Regions from separate parts of the Homo sapiens genome. Here all the other regions are linked to region 1. The links come from fine-mapping of genetic effects on gene expression. A gene starts in region 1. Each other region holds a variant in brackets. All regions are shown on one strand. Distances are from middle to middle.

Region 1 (4,244 bases):
GTAGGGAAAGGGAAGTTCAGCCCAAAAATGCAGACATGGGCTGTTACATTAAGATGAGCTGTAGCTGTGAAGTAGAAGGAGAATCAAGGAACACGGCCACTTCTACAGCAGGCCACCCCCACCCCAGGCCCTGAGAAGACACGTGCTTCCCAGGAAGAAAGGATCAGAAGGCAGATACCCACAGGAAACAGAGAATTGTGAGAGGATACGCATTCTTCAAGTGAACAAGGCAAAAATAACTTGCAGAAAACAAAGTACTGCAGGAGCTAATGCCGTTCAACAATTTGCCCCTTCTAGAACTTTCTTTCCTTGGCTTTCAAGACCTGCCATCCTGATCCTCTGATAGCTCCTTCCCAGTCCACCCAGGCATGATAAGCAGACCTCGGTGGTAAGACACATTGTCGATAATTAAATAAATCCTCGAAAGTAATCCAGAAATGCCTCTGACTTTATTTCTTATACAATAATTATGTGAGGAAAAAGGGAAACTTTTTGCTGAGTTCTGGAACCCCAAACTCAGGGGAGAGTGGGAGAGGAGGAGTGCTGATTTTAGTTGTGGTTTGGGATGAGATGTAAAGGCCCTGGGGAGAAACAGTCACCAAGTCTGGCTGAGGGCGCTTGTCCTCCCGTCTTCCGCATGCGGGGGTCCAGAGCAGTTTTGGATCAGATGATGAGCGCCATCTGCAGGTAGCAAGCTGGAGGCAGGAGAAAATATCTGTGTACTGTTTAGGATTATTACAGAGCCGAAATAAAAGCCAGGTAAACCATTTGGCCCATCTCTGGTTCTCTTCATTCTGAAATTCAGCCCGATCCTGTAACCCCACAACCTACTGCCTGGCTCCTTCTTCCCCTTCACGGTCACATTTCTGCAAAGAGCGTGTTACGCTCTCTGCTTCCACTTCCTTCCCTCCCTTTCAGTCTTCAGTAGCTGCCATCTCCCTCTCCTCCCTCCTCACCAGGAGACTATGCTTGCCGCTCCTCAGCAGTCCAGCAGACACTTCTCTGACCTGAGGTATCGGTAGCACTGGAATGATAATCCCCCCGCCCCCCTCGACTTGCAACACTGCTTTATTTGGGGTCAAGGAAACACACAGCCCCAGCTTCTCTCCCATCACTCGGCCTCCCCTCTTGCAGATGCCACTATTATCCAGCCACTTGCACGGGCCATCCATGGCTGACCATGGAGTCATCCTTGAGCTTCTCCTTCTCTCAAGGCTCACATTCTTCAGCAAGTCCTGCTTTCACTATTAATTGAGAATCCTCGTTTTCTCAGTTCTTCTCTGCCAGCACCCCAGTCTCAGCCACCCTTGTCTCTCACTTAGGACACTATGGTAGCCACTTGGCTGATCTCTCTGCCTCCACTCTAGCCACCACGCAGCAGCCGGAGTGATCCTGTACATGTGAATCACACCGTGGAACCCCACTTCCTAACCCTCCAAGGCTATCCCCTGATATCCTGGGGTTATCAGGTTACATGTCACCGCCCTATAAACCCTCCCTGAGCCGCCACAGCTGGACTAGGAGCCACTCCTCATCTGTTCCAGGAACACAAGTATATTCTTTCCCAGAGCACCTATTGCCCACTGTGTTCACCATAGCTCCGTGAGCTCAGCGAGGGTTCAGTGAGTGAGTGCATGGCGCCTAGTAAATATTCCACAAAAAAAACTGTGAGTGTAATTGTTTCCCCCACATTTCTAGACATGTAGTATTAACAGATCAAGGAACAGAAAGCAAAACAGGGAAAGCAACGTAAAATTCTGATAATCACAATGATTGCTGAAAAAGTCCCCAAATAGGCAGCAAACATTCTAAAGGGGCCACAGTTTGTGAGTCATTTTATTCTTTTGTAAAGGGTCGGCTTGCGGCAAAAATTAAATGATCTTTGCGTTTGGGCAAGGTCTGGTGCCCCAAAGCTGCCGACTTGATCTGCGGTTGGGGCGAGCGGCAGGTAGGGGGCCCGGAGTTAGGAGGGGGTGTGGGAGCCCGTGGAGCACAGGTGAACTGAGGCCGCCTTCCCGGGGCGCCGCTGGCCAGCCCCAAAGGGTTACTTTGGCCTTGGCTGTGGGCCGAATGCGAAGGTGGGGAGGTGGGCGGGGGATGACTCTGCCATTCCTGGGTCCGCTGTGTTAGGCTGAAGGCAAAAGGAAACCAAGGCCTGGGAGTTTTCCAGGAAACGAAAGCGAAAGAGTCAAAGTTAGCGGCCCGGAGTTGGCGCGGCCCCTGCAGTCCGGCGGAGAGCGGAGCTGAGGATGGCTGTGCCCGGCTCCTTCCCGCTGCTGGTCGAGGGCTCCTGGGGCCCCGACCCCCCGAAGAACTTGAACACCAAGTTGCAGATGTACTTCCAGAGCCCGAAGAGGTCGGGAGGCGGCGAGTGTGAGGTCCGCCAGGATCCCAGGAGCCCATCCCGCTTCCTGGTGTTCTTCTACCCGGAGGACGGTGAGGGGCGCGAGGGGTGGGGTGAGGAGGGGGCACCTCTGCCCTCCCTCCAGGGAAATGGCGGCAGGGCACGCACGGGAGGGTGACCCGCCCGACTTCGGCGGCTGCTGTAGCGGAGGTGGCCGGGGCGGGGGCGGGGGCGGGGGCGGCAGAATGGATTCCGAGCGCACCCGGGGCGCTGCGGTTCCCCGGCGCCCTGCGCTTCCAGGCGCTTAATGGCGCGGCCCGGAGGTGGCGGCGGAACCGCGCAAGTAACTCTTTATCCCTCGATCGTTTTCTGTCTTTCCCTGTTGTGGTGGTGTTATTGTTTGTTGTTGTTGTTGTGGAAGTGAGTCTATCCTCTTATCATCCTTTTCTGTCTTTTCCTGTTGTTATTATTCTTGTGTGGGGAAGGAAACTGATTAAGAAACGTGGCAAGTCACAGAGATTCCTTGTGGTTCTTGGAGATTCCCAGGGGTCCCGGGGTCACTTGGGAGAGGGGCAGAGGCGCTACCTAAAATCACACTGCCTGAATGTCAACGTAGAGCCGTCACAGCGGCCACATTGGAGGGGCTGTCGATCGACCACAGGTGCCCATTGTCGAGGGCCTGCCGGGGCCTCTTCTCCGAGTCTCTAGTGGCCCTCAGATTGGGAGCAAGGATGATATTCTGAAGTGATTGTGGGTTGGGAGATTTGAGCTTTGGAGGGAAAGTCGGCAAAGTTCCCTCCTTACAGACCCACCACTACTTGGTGGGCCAAGAGCCCAGAGGTGATCTGCTGGCTCAAGGGCCTCCCTGGTCTGCAATGGGAAGCCAGTGACCTGCAGCTCCCAGAATGGGCACCTTTTCCACTGGCATCTTATGGATGATGACCTATCGGGATCTAGTCAACCCCTAATTCCGCTTTCATGTCGCTAGATTTGGAGAAGCATTCGGGCCAGAGGAGAGGCAAGGAGGCTGAGGCTGAGGCCATGCAATTAGAGTGCCCAAGCAGGGATCCAAAAAGGAAAAATGAAACAGAAAAAGAATGGCGCACAGAAGGAAGGAAGGAGGGGGACAGGAGATATGCTTGGCTCATGGCCCTTATGAAAACAAAATACCATGTTTTCCTAGGATTAATTTTACCAAGGAGTGCTCAGAAGGGCAACTGTGTGATATTAGTCATTTCTCTTTTGGGTGTCACTTTTCCTTGAGGGTTTTCCCCACTTTGACTTCAGAGGTCAGCATCACCATCGATCTGGCCCTTAAGGATGCTTCTTTCTCCTTTAGATTCCATTATCCTTAGAAGTAGGTCTGACCTGCATCTGAATCACCTGGAGAGCAGGTTAACCAGGCACCTTCCCAGCTCTGTTTTAGAGATTCAGGTTCAGTGAATGTGGGGTGGGTGGGAAGCGTGTATTTAACCGGCAGCCCAGGTGACCCTAATGTGTTCAAGTTTCAGAATTTCCGTAGTTAATGTTAACCCCAAATGAACAAAAAGAAATAATTATACAAATTTAAACAGCATGAAAATACAAATAGCACAAAGTATAATTTTGTGATGATAAAATAACTCAATTCTAGCCCTCCAAGCAGAAAAGATTTCAGTCTTCCTGCTGGGCTTCCATCCTTGACCGGCCCCAGCCCACTACTCCTCTTCCTCCACCCCCAGGCTGCTCCAGTGGCCCCTCTTGTCTTACCCCCCAGCACAGATGACCCAAAACTTATTAAAACTCAAAACCGGCCGGGCGTGGTGGCTCACGCCTGTTAATCCCAGCACTTTGGGAGGCTGAGGCAGGTGGATGACGAGTTGAGGAGATCGAGACCATCCTTGAGCAACATGGTGAAACC
Region 2 (4,244 bases), 41 kb after region 1:
AGACCTACTCTCCAAGAAGGGAAGCCCTGTCTTGTGTAGGCAGCCCTTCCTACCTTCGAACCAGATTAAGTCCCCTTTGAAAATGAGTAAATTGGCTTCCATTACACTATATTTATCTCCTGTGAGATCAGTGTGAACAGATTCCCGAGACTCTGAGCAACCCTGGGGAAATGATAAATCACATATAGTATTCTGCTTAGCAGAGGAGAAGACAGAGCTGTCACCACAGCTTGTCACATAGCAAAATCTGCCACCTAACTGCCTCTTAAAGATGCTATGAAGAATAATGAAAAAATAGATGTAGAGTGCCTGTGGTGGTGATGGTGAGGAGTTCTGGCAAAAATCCATGCACAAACAAAACAGCAACTACTTAGAACACTGTAGGGAAATAATTTATTGTGAAATTGTGACTACTAGAGATTGAACAGAAAACACAGATGAGTTATACTGCACCAACAGTTCTCAAATCGTAGTATGATCCAAACTTAGGAGGCAGACATACAGGCTCTGCCCCTCACAGATGCTGATTCAGTTGATCTGTGGCTTTCCTTTTTTTTGTTTAACAAGCATTCCAGTTGGTTCTGATGTAGGTTGTCTGTTGTTCATGCTTTGAAAAGCGTTCTCCTAGAAAGATAAGGAACTCTTTGAATGCTTAGAATTGGGAGATAGTAAAACAAGAACACAGATACTAAATGTTCCAGAGTGTACCGGGGATGTATGAGGGCATCCTCAAATGTCTCCTTTGCAGTTGACATCCCTGCACACTGGAGTGATATGAAGCAGCAGAATTTCTGTGTGGTGGAGCTGCTGCCTAGTGATCCTGAGTACAACACGGTGGCAAGCAAGTTTAATCAGACCTGCTCACACTTCAGAATAGAGAAGGTAAGCCTTCTGCTAGAATGCAGTTTCTGGATGGTGGAAATAAGTTCTGTCATGGTCCTATATAAAATCCATTTTCATTCACTTCCTATCACATTTTTTTAAACCCAGAATTAGAATTTGTATGGTAATTAGTAGTTCTAGATTCTACTCATGTGACCATAATTACTGAGGCATTAAGATTCTTGTGTCAGTGATTACAATATTTGATTGTAATATGATAGAACACTAAAGACATATATTTACTTTGTGAAGCAAGCTAATACAAATTCAAAGATATGGCTTTAAAATTGGATTTGATAGCTAGCAAATTCCACAGAGAGCCATGCAGAGGCTCCTTAGATCAGGACCATGTTACTCTGCCCCATTATTCACAGATCAACAGTGCTTCCTTGATAAAGCCAGCAGGCCTTTTCTCGTTTATCATAATTATTTTGGGCAGGTGAATGTGATGATTCGTGCCTGTAGTCCCAGCTATTGGGAGGCTGAGGTGGAAGGATTGCATGAGCCCAGGAGTTTGACGCCAGTCTGGGTAACATAGTGAGATCCTGCTCTCAAATAAAAACAACCAATTATTTTGGCATCTTCTTCCATTTTTAAACATTTTTGATATTGCTGTTTGAAATTATATTTTCCTTGACTTCTCTAGCAAAATTATTATGATTTTTTTTTCCTTGACTAATTTTCTTTTCATTTTTGCAGGCACGCTGTTTCTCTTCCAAACCCCTAATTCTAGCTTTATTCACGCCATTTATGCTTAAACGGTCTTTTGTCTCTGTACCTCACCAGGGAATATATTTACCCTTCTTGGATTCAACTATTAGTTCAATGTCAATAGCTCCCAAATCAACATTACCAACCTGGGTCTTTGACTCAAGCTCTAGAACATACTCCCAGTGGCCTAAAAAAATCTCCACTTGAGGCTGGGCACAGTGGCTCACGCCTGTAATCCCAGCACTTTGGGAGGCCGAGGTGGGTGGATCACGAGGTCAGGGGTTCAAGACCATCCTGGTGAAGATGGTGAAACCACGTCTCTACTAAAACTACAAAAATTAGCCGGGCATGTTGGCAGGTGCCTATAATCCCACCTACTTGGGAGGCTGAGGCAGGATAATTGCTTGAACATGGGTGGCAGAGATTGCAGTGAGCCAAGATCACGCCACTGCACTCCAGCCTGGTCGA[C/CAG]AGAGTGAGACTCCGTCTCAAAAAAAAAATCTCCACTTGAATATCTAACTGCAAAATCAACTTCTCTAAAATCTAATGCATCATACGTAAGTAATTCTCTTTCCCTTTCCTTCCTCATTTCTGTTTTTGGTTCTACCACTTTCTGAGTAAAGCCGGAGATCTTTGATCCACCATAAGTCTGCCAGTAAGACCTACATTTTCTTTGCAAATTTTTCTTACTCTCTATTTGAACTGCCAACACTGTTTATTCATGTTGTTAAGTACATCATAATTTAAAAAGATTCAAAGTGCCCTACAAAGATATAAACTATACCTTCAGATAAAATAAATATACAAAGAAAAATGGTTAAAGAGAAAAGAATGGCAGGGAAAATAAGATAATACAGACGAACTGCTAGTTCTCAAAAATATATAACATGAGGTTACCAATTTGTCCCTGAGCTTCCTAGTAGACAAAGCAAGAAGTAAACATTCAGGTACAAGACTCATAATGTCCGTAAATCAAAAAGCAAACCATTTGATAAGGAGGCTCACAGCTCCTCACAATACTGAGACTGACTCCTGAGAGATTTCTCTTGTGGATCAAGTACTAGAGAATATCCTCAACGTCATCCTCACAATAAATTAAATATCAACTTTTATATCACTGTTTTTTTTTAATGTAAAACTGGTTGAACAAAACCGATGCCTGATTGAATGAAAACAATTCTATGAGGCACCAAGACAATATGATTCAAGTATGCAGCTCTATGATGGTCTATTTCTGAGATAACAAGTAAGTCTCACTCCAAGTACCAATTACTACTAACTGGTAGTGGCTGATTGGCACATTGTGATGAGATGCTAAGTTTAGATTGAGCAGGAATGAATGTTCTGCTTGACCAGCAATATCTACAGTGGGCCCTGTGGATGCCTGCTGTGTATTGGCAGACCCTGGCCAGAGAATTGATTTCAACACTTTTTTGCAGTGAAACCTTTTTTTTCAATAAAATCTTATGTGAAATCCCAGTGTATGAACCAGATAAAAGCAGAGGTGTGGGTAGTACTTAAGGTGCCTCCATGGAGGTCCCTAGAATTGTGAAAATAACATAAAAAATGGGTGGTCTGTCATCCTCTATGACTATTATGTCTTATGATTAAGGTTTTTAATATCCATAAGCCTTCCACTTAGATTCAACAATTGTGCCACTTTTGCTTTCTCTCCCTGTCTGTTTTTGCTGAAGCATTTGAAGGTAAGTTGCAGACATCATGATACTCCTATTTTAGCAAGTATCTCCCAATTAAAGACATTCTCCTAAATTATGGCAATGCCATTATCCCAATTAAAAACTTAACATTAATTCAGTAATATCCAATATGCATTTCATATTTTTTTTTTTTTTCCCCGAGACGGAGTCTTGCTCTTTCACCCAGGCTGGAGTGCAGTGGCGCGATCTTGGCTCACTGCAACCTCCGCCTACCGGTTGCAAGCGATTCTCCTGCCTCAGCGTCCCAAGTAGCTGAAATTGCAGGTGCCCACCACCACACCCGGCTAATTTTTTTTTGTATTTTTAGTAAAGATGGGGTTTCACCATGTTGGCCAGGCTGGTCTCGAACTCCTGACCTCAAGTGATCCCCCCGCCTGGGCCTCCCAAAGTGTTGGGATTACAGGTGTGAGCCACCACATCTGGCCACAGTCCATATTCTAATTTTTCCAGTTGTTCAAAAAAATCTCTTATAACTCCCCCTCCCCAACCCCAGTCTGAGTTCACACACGGTTTGGACATTATGTCTCCTTTGTGTCTTCTAATATAGAGTAGTACTCTTGCATTTAAAAAATTATTTTTCATGACATGAATTTTTTTAGAGTTTAAGCCAATTGTATTGTAGAATGTATCACATTCTGGATCTGTCATGCCTTGATTTTTGTGGAAGAATCCATGCCAGTTTTATAGATTCTAGACTTATCTGATTCTTGATAATATCATTTATTTCTCTATCCTCTTTATTTCTGGTAAGCTGAGTTAGGTTGAAAGGTTTGAGTAAATTCAGATAAATATTTTTTGCAAGAATACTTCATAGGTGATACATCACATCAGGAACCTCAGATGGTAAGGCCATCCCACTATTAATGATGCTAAGTTTGATCACTAGTTAAGTGGGTGACCACCATTTCTCTCCACTGGAATCAGTAGATTATCTGT
Region 3 (4,244 bases), 23 kb before region 1:
CCTTGGAATCCAACTTACAAGGAATGTAAAGGACCTCTTCAAGGAGAACTACAAACAACTGCTCAATGAAATAAAAGAGGACACATACAAATGGACGAATATTCCATGCTCATGGATAGGAAGAATCAATATCGTAATTTATAGATTCAATGCCATCCCCATTAAGCTACCAATGACTTTCCTCACAGAATTGGAAAAAACTACTTTAAAGTTCATATGGACCCAAAAAAAAGCCTGCATTGCCAAGACAATCCTAAGCAAAAAGAACAAAGCTGGAGGCATCACACTACCTGACTTCAAACTATACAAGTCTACAGTAACCAAAACAGCATGGTACTGGTACCGAAACAGAGATATAGACAGATGGAACAGAACAGAGGCCTCAGAAATAACACCACACGTCTACAACCATCTGATCTTTGACAAACCTGACAAAAACAAGAAATGGAGAAAGGATTCCCTGTATAATAAATGGTGCTGGGAAAACTGGCTAGCCATATGCAGAAAGATGAAACTGCATCCCTTCCTTACACCTTATACAAAAATTAATTCAAAATTGTTTAAAGACTTAAATGTTAGACCTAAAATCATAAAAACCCTAGAAGAAAACCTAGGCAATACCATTCAGGACATAGGCATGGGCAAGGACTTCATGACTAAAACACCAAAAGCAATGGCAACAAAAGCCAAAATAGATAAATGGTATCTAATTAAATGAAAGGGCTTCTGCACAGCAAAAGAAACTACCATCAGAGTGAATAGGCAACCTACAGAATGGGAAAAAATTTTTGCAATCTACCTATCTGACAAAGGGCTAATATCCAGAATCTACAAAGAACTCAAACAAATTTACAAGAAAAAAACAACCCCATCAAAAAGTGGGCAAAGGATATGAACAGACACTTCTCAAAAGAAGACATTAATGCAGCCAACAGACAAATGAAAAAATGCTCATCATCACTGGTCATCAGAGAAATCCAAATCAAAACCACAATGAGATACCATCTCACACCAGTTAGAATGGCGATCATTAAGAAGGCAGTAAACAACAGATGCTGGAGAGGATGTGGAGAAATAGGAACGCTTTTACACTGTTGGTGGGAGTGTAAACTAATTCAACCATTGTGGAAGACAGTGTGGTGATTCCTCAAGGGTCTAGAACTAGAAATACCATTTGACCCAGCGATCCCATTACTGGGTATATACCCAAAGGATTGTAAATCATGCACACGTATGTTTATTGTGGCACTATTCACAATAGCAAAGACTTGGAACCAACCCAAATGTCCATCAATGATAGACTGGATTAAGAAAATGTGGCACATATACACCATGGAGTACTATGCAGCCATAAAAAAGGATGAGTTCATGTCCTTGGCAGGGATGTGGATGAAGCTGGAAACCATCATTCTGAGCAAACTATCACAAGGACAGAAAATCAAGCACCGCATGTTCTCACTCATAGGTGGGAATTGAACAATGAGAACACTTGGACACAGGGTGGGGAACATCACACACCGGGGCCTGTCAGGTGGTGGGAGGCTGGGGGAGAGATAGCATTAGGAGAAATACCTAATGTAAATGAGGAATTGATGGGTTCAGCAAACCAACATGGTACGTGTATACCTATGTATCAAACCTGCACACTGTGCCCATGTACCCTAGAACTTAAAGTATAATAAAAAATAAAAACAAAACAAAAAAAAAACCTTTAACTTGGCCTGATACTAAATAATTGTATTGGTCAGGGTTCTCTAGAGAAACAGAACCAACAGGGCGTGTTGAGATTATATAAATAAATTACAGGCTGGGCATAGTGGTTCACACCTGTAATCCCAGCATTTTGGGAGGAGTGGGCAGGTAGATCACTTGAGCCCAGGAGTTTGAGACCAGCCTGGGCAACATGGCAGAACACTGTCTCTACAAAAAATACAAAAATTACCTGAGCGTGGTGGTGCATGCCTGCAGTCCCAGCTACTTAGGAGGCTGAGGTGGGAGGATTGCTTGAGCTCAGGAGGTTGAGCAAGGCTGCAGTGAGCCGTGATTGCACCACTCTACTCCAGCCTGGGCAACAGAGTGAGACACCGTCTCTAAAAATAAATAAATAAATTACAGTTCGCAGTGGCTTATGCCTGTAATCCCAGCACTTTGGGAGGCAAGGCGGGTGGATCACTTGAGGTCAGGAATTCGAGACCAGCCTGGTCAACATGGTGAAACCCCATCTCTATGAAAAATACAAAAAATTCCCGGGCGTAATGGTGTCTGTAATCTCAGCTACTCAGGAGGCTGAGGGAGGAGAATCGCTTGAACCTGGGAGGCGGAGGTTGCAATGAGCCAAGATCACACCATTGCACTCCAGCCTGGGTGACAGAACAAGACTCTGTCT[C/CAAATA]AAATAAAATAAAATAAAATAAAATAAAACAAAATAAAATAAATAAAATAAAATAAAATAAAATAATTAAAAAATAAATTACAGAATTAATTAAAATTGCAATAAATATTTAAAAAGAGGTAGAGAGTGATATAAAATGTACTGCTTAACTGAGTCTGAGAAGTCAGGATAGGCTTTTCTGAGGAATATGTCAAACAGAAATAAGATTTTTTGGTTTTAAAATATAAGAAGGTAGAAGAAAAATGTTTAAGGTGAAATAAACCTATGTTTCCAAGTGGGATGAATTAGCTAGTGACAGAATGTGTTCTCACCTAAAATAAGCAGAAAATTAGAACAAAATAGAGGAGGCATCTATTTTAAGGCAGAAAAGGGCTTCTGAGTTAGCAATAACTGAAGGAGCCAAAACTCCAGAGAGGGAGAATCACAGCTAGGGAGAGCTGAGTTCTGCAGCCACTGTGCCTAGGGGTCATCTGCTGATTCTGTGCTTGGGGAGGAGACTGATAACCCCAGGCCTTGCACCCAAGGAAGGCCACTGCTGGGAGGCAGAGGCCAGGAGGGATATGGGAGGAGATTTGGAAGGTCTCCAGAGAACATCTGTTAAATTACAGGGGTGCATGAGGCTGGAGTCTAAAAAGAGAAGCAGAAAACTTCTGAAGCAGAACAGAGCCTTCGGCAGTCTTGTAAAGACAAAGATTAGAATTCTTGGCCCACCAGGTGGAAGAGCATGGAGAATACACTAGGATTTCTGCTGAAAATCCTGAAGAAGCAGGAGTAAAATCAATGCAGGCTGAGCCTTACGAAGGACACAACTCAGCCTCAACTCACCACAGTGCATAGAGGATTCAGGGTTAGATTTAATTAATTCTAAATTAGAATTAGATACAAGTCACCAATTAGAAGCAAGATGCTTTATAAAATTAATATAATTTTTATTGTATGTGGAGAAAATAAATGAGCAAGTACATCAAAGAGCATTTCAGATTCAAAAAGAGTGATGAGAAGAATTTGTCCTAGCAGACATTTAATGTACTGGTAACAAATTTGAAACACTTGGTGTACAGGAATATCAATAATGAGAATATTTAAAAGACCCACACTTTGCACTACACTCTGAAAAAAAAAATCCAGGTAGATTGGGAGTTAAATACATTTAAAAAAACAAATACACATATGTAAAAGACTAGCACTAGGGGAAATCACTTTTTGACTGTCGATGGAATATAAATGAAAAAAAGACGGACAGGTTCATGACTTAGATAGCTTTATCTTTGGTGGAATGAATACCAATAAAGCTGAAATTTAAAAATTCAGAAGACTGGAGAAAAAGTTTGCAAATGAAGACAAAGTTCAATAACTAAAAAGTATAAAGAGTGCATATAAATAGGTAAAATTACCAACTATTAAACAAATGATTAAAAAACAGTTCATACAACAAGAAACACTGTCAGTAAATCATAATTTTAAAACTATTCAGTCAACCTTGTTGGTAAAATAACTGCAAATTAAACCTACGGTGAAGTTTCATTTTGTGCCTTAAAAAAATTTAGAAAAACTTTTAAAAAGTTGTAAAAGCCAAAGCCTGCAAGGCTTCGGGAAGCAGATATGCTCATGCATTAATGAAAGCAGCGTAAACTGATTCAGTCTTCCTGAAGGGCAAAATGGTACTTTATTGAAAGAATCATAAATATGCCTAACCCCTGACCAAGTAATAGAATTTATCCTGAGGAAATGATGTTTAATAAAAAGTGTATGTATATATAATGTTTATTTTATGATGGCAAACATTGGAATAAAGCTAAGAGCCCAACAATACAGATATACAGAAAGAAGCTAACTATGGCATATCAAAATGATATAC

What was found. PIP is the estimated chance that this variant, and not a neighbour inherited with it, causes the effect. A credible set is the group of variants that fine-mapping cannot tell apart.
Region 2: its variant is the best candidate, but not a certain one, in a credible set for the expression of PARP14 in lung (TOPMed, PIP 0.59).
Region 3: its variant is the best candidate, but not a certain one, in a credible set for the expression of PARP14 in whole blood (INTERVAL, PIP 0.53).

What each region holds. Positions count from the first base shown.
Region 1 is chr3:122,678,635-122,682,878 of GRCh38, forward strand. PARP14 (poly(ADP-ribose) polymerase family member 14) reads left to right here and starts at 2,205. Exons shown (of 17, transcript NM_017554.3): 1 at 2,205-2,436. The coding sequence starts at 2,250. RefSeq lists enhancers at 1,193-1,312, 1,716-2,488, 1,913-2,312, 2,854-2,943 and a silencer at 2,553-2,602.
Region 2 is chr3:122,719,507-122,723,750 of GRCh38, forward strand. It overlaps PARP14 (poly(ADP-ribose) polymerase family member 14), which reads left to right. Exons shown (of 17, transcript NM_017554.3): 15 at 749-882. Among named protein-coding and RNA genes, the nearest start is that of PARP14, 41 kb to the left of the region's middle. The variant C/CAG (reference allele first, on the strand shown) is at 2,062.
Region 3 is chr3:122,656,095-122,660,338 of GRCh38, forward strand. No RefSeq gene overlaps it. Among named protein-coding and RNA genes, the nearest start is that of PARP14, 23 kb to the right of the region's middle. The variant C/CAAATA (reference allele first, on the strand shown) is at 2,387.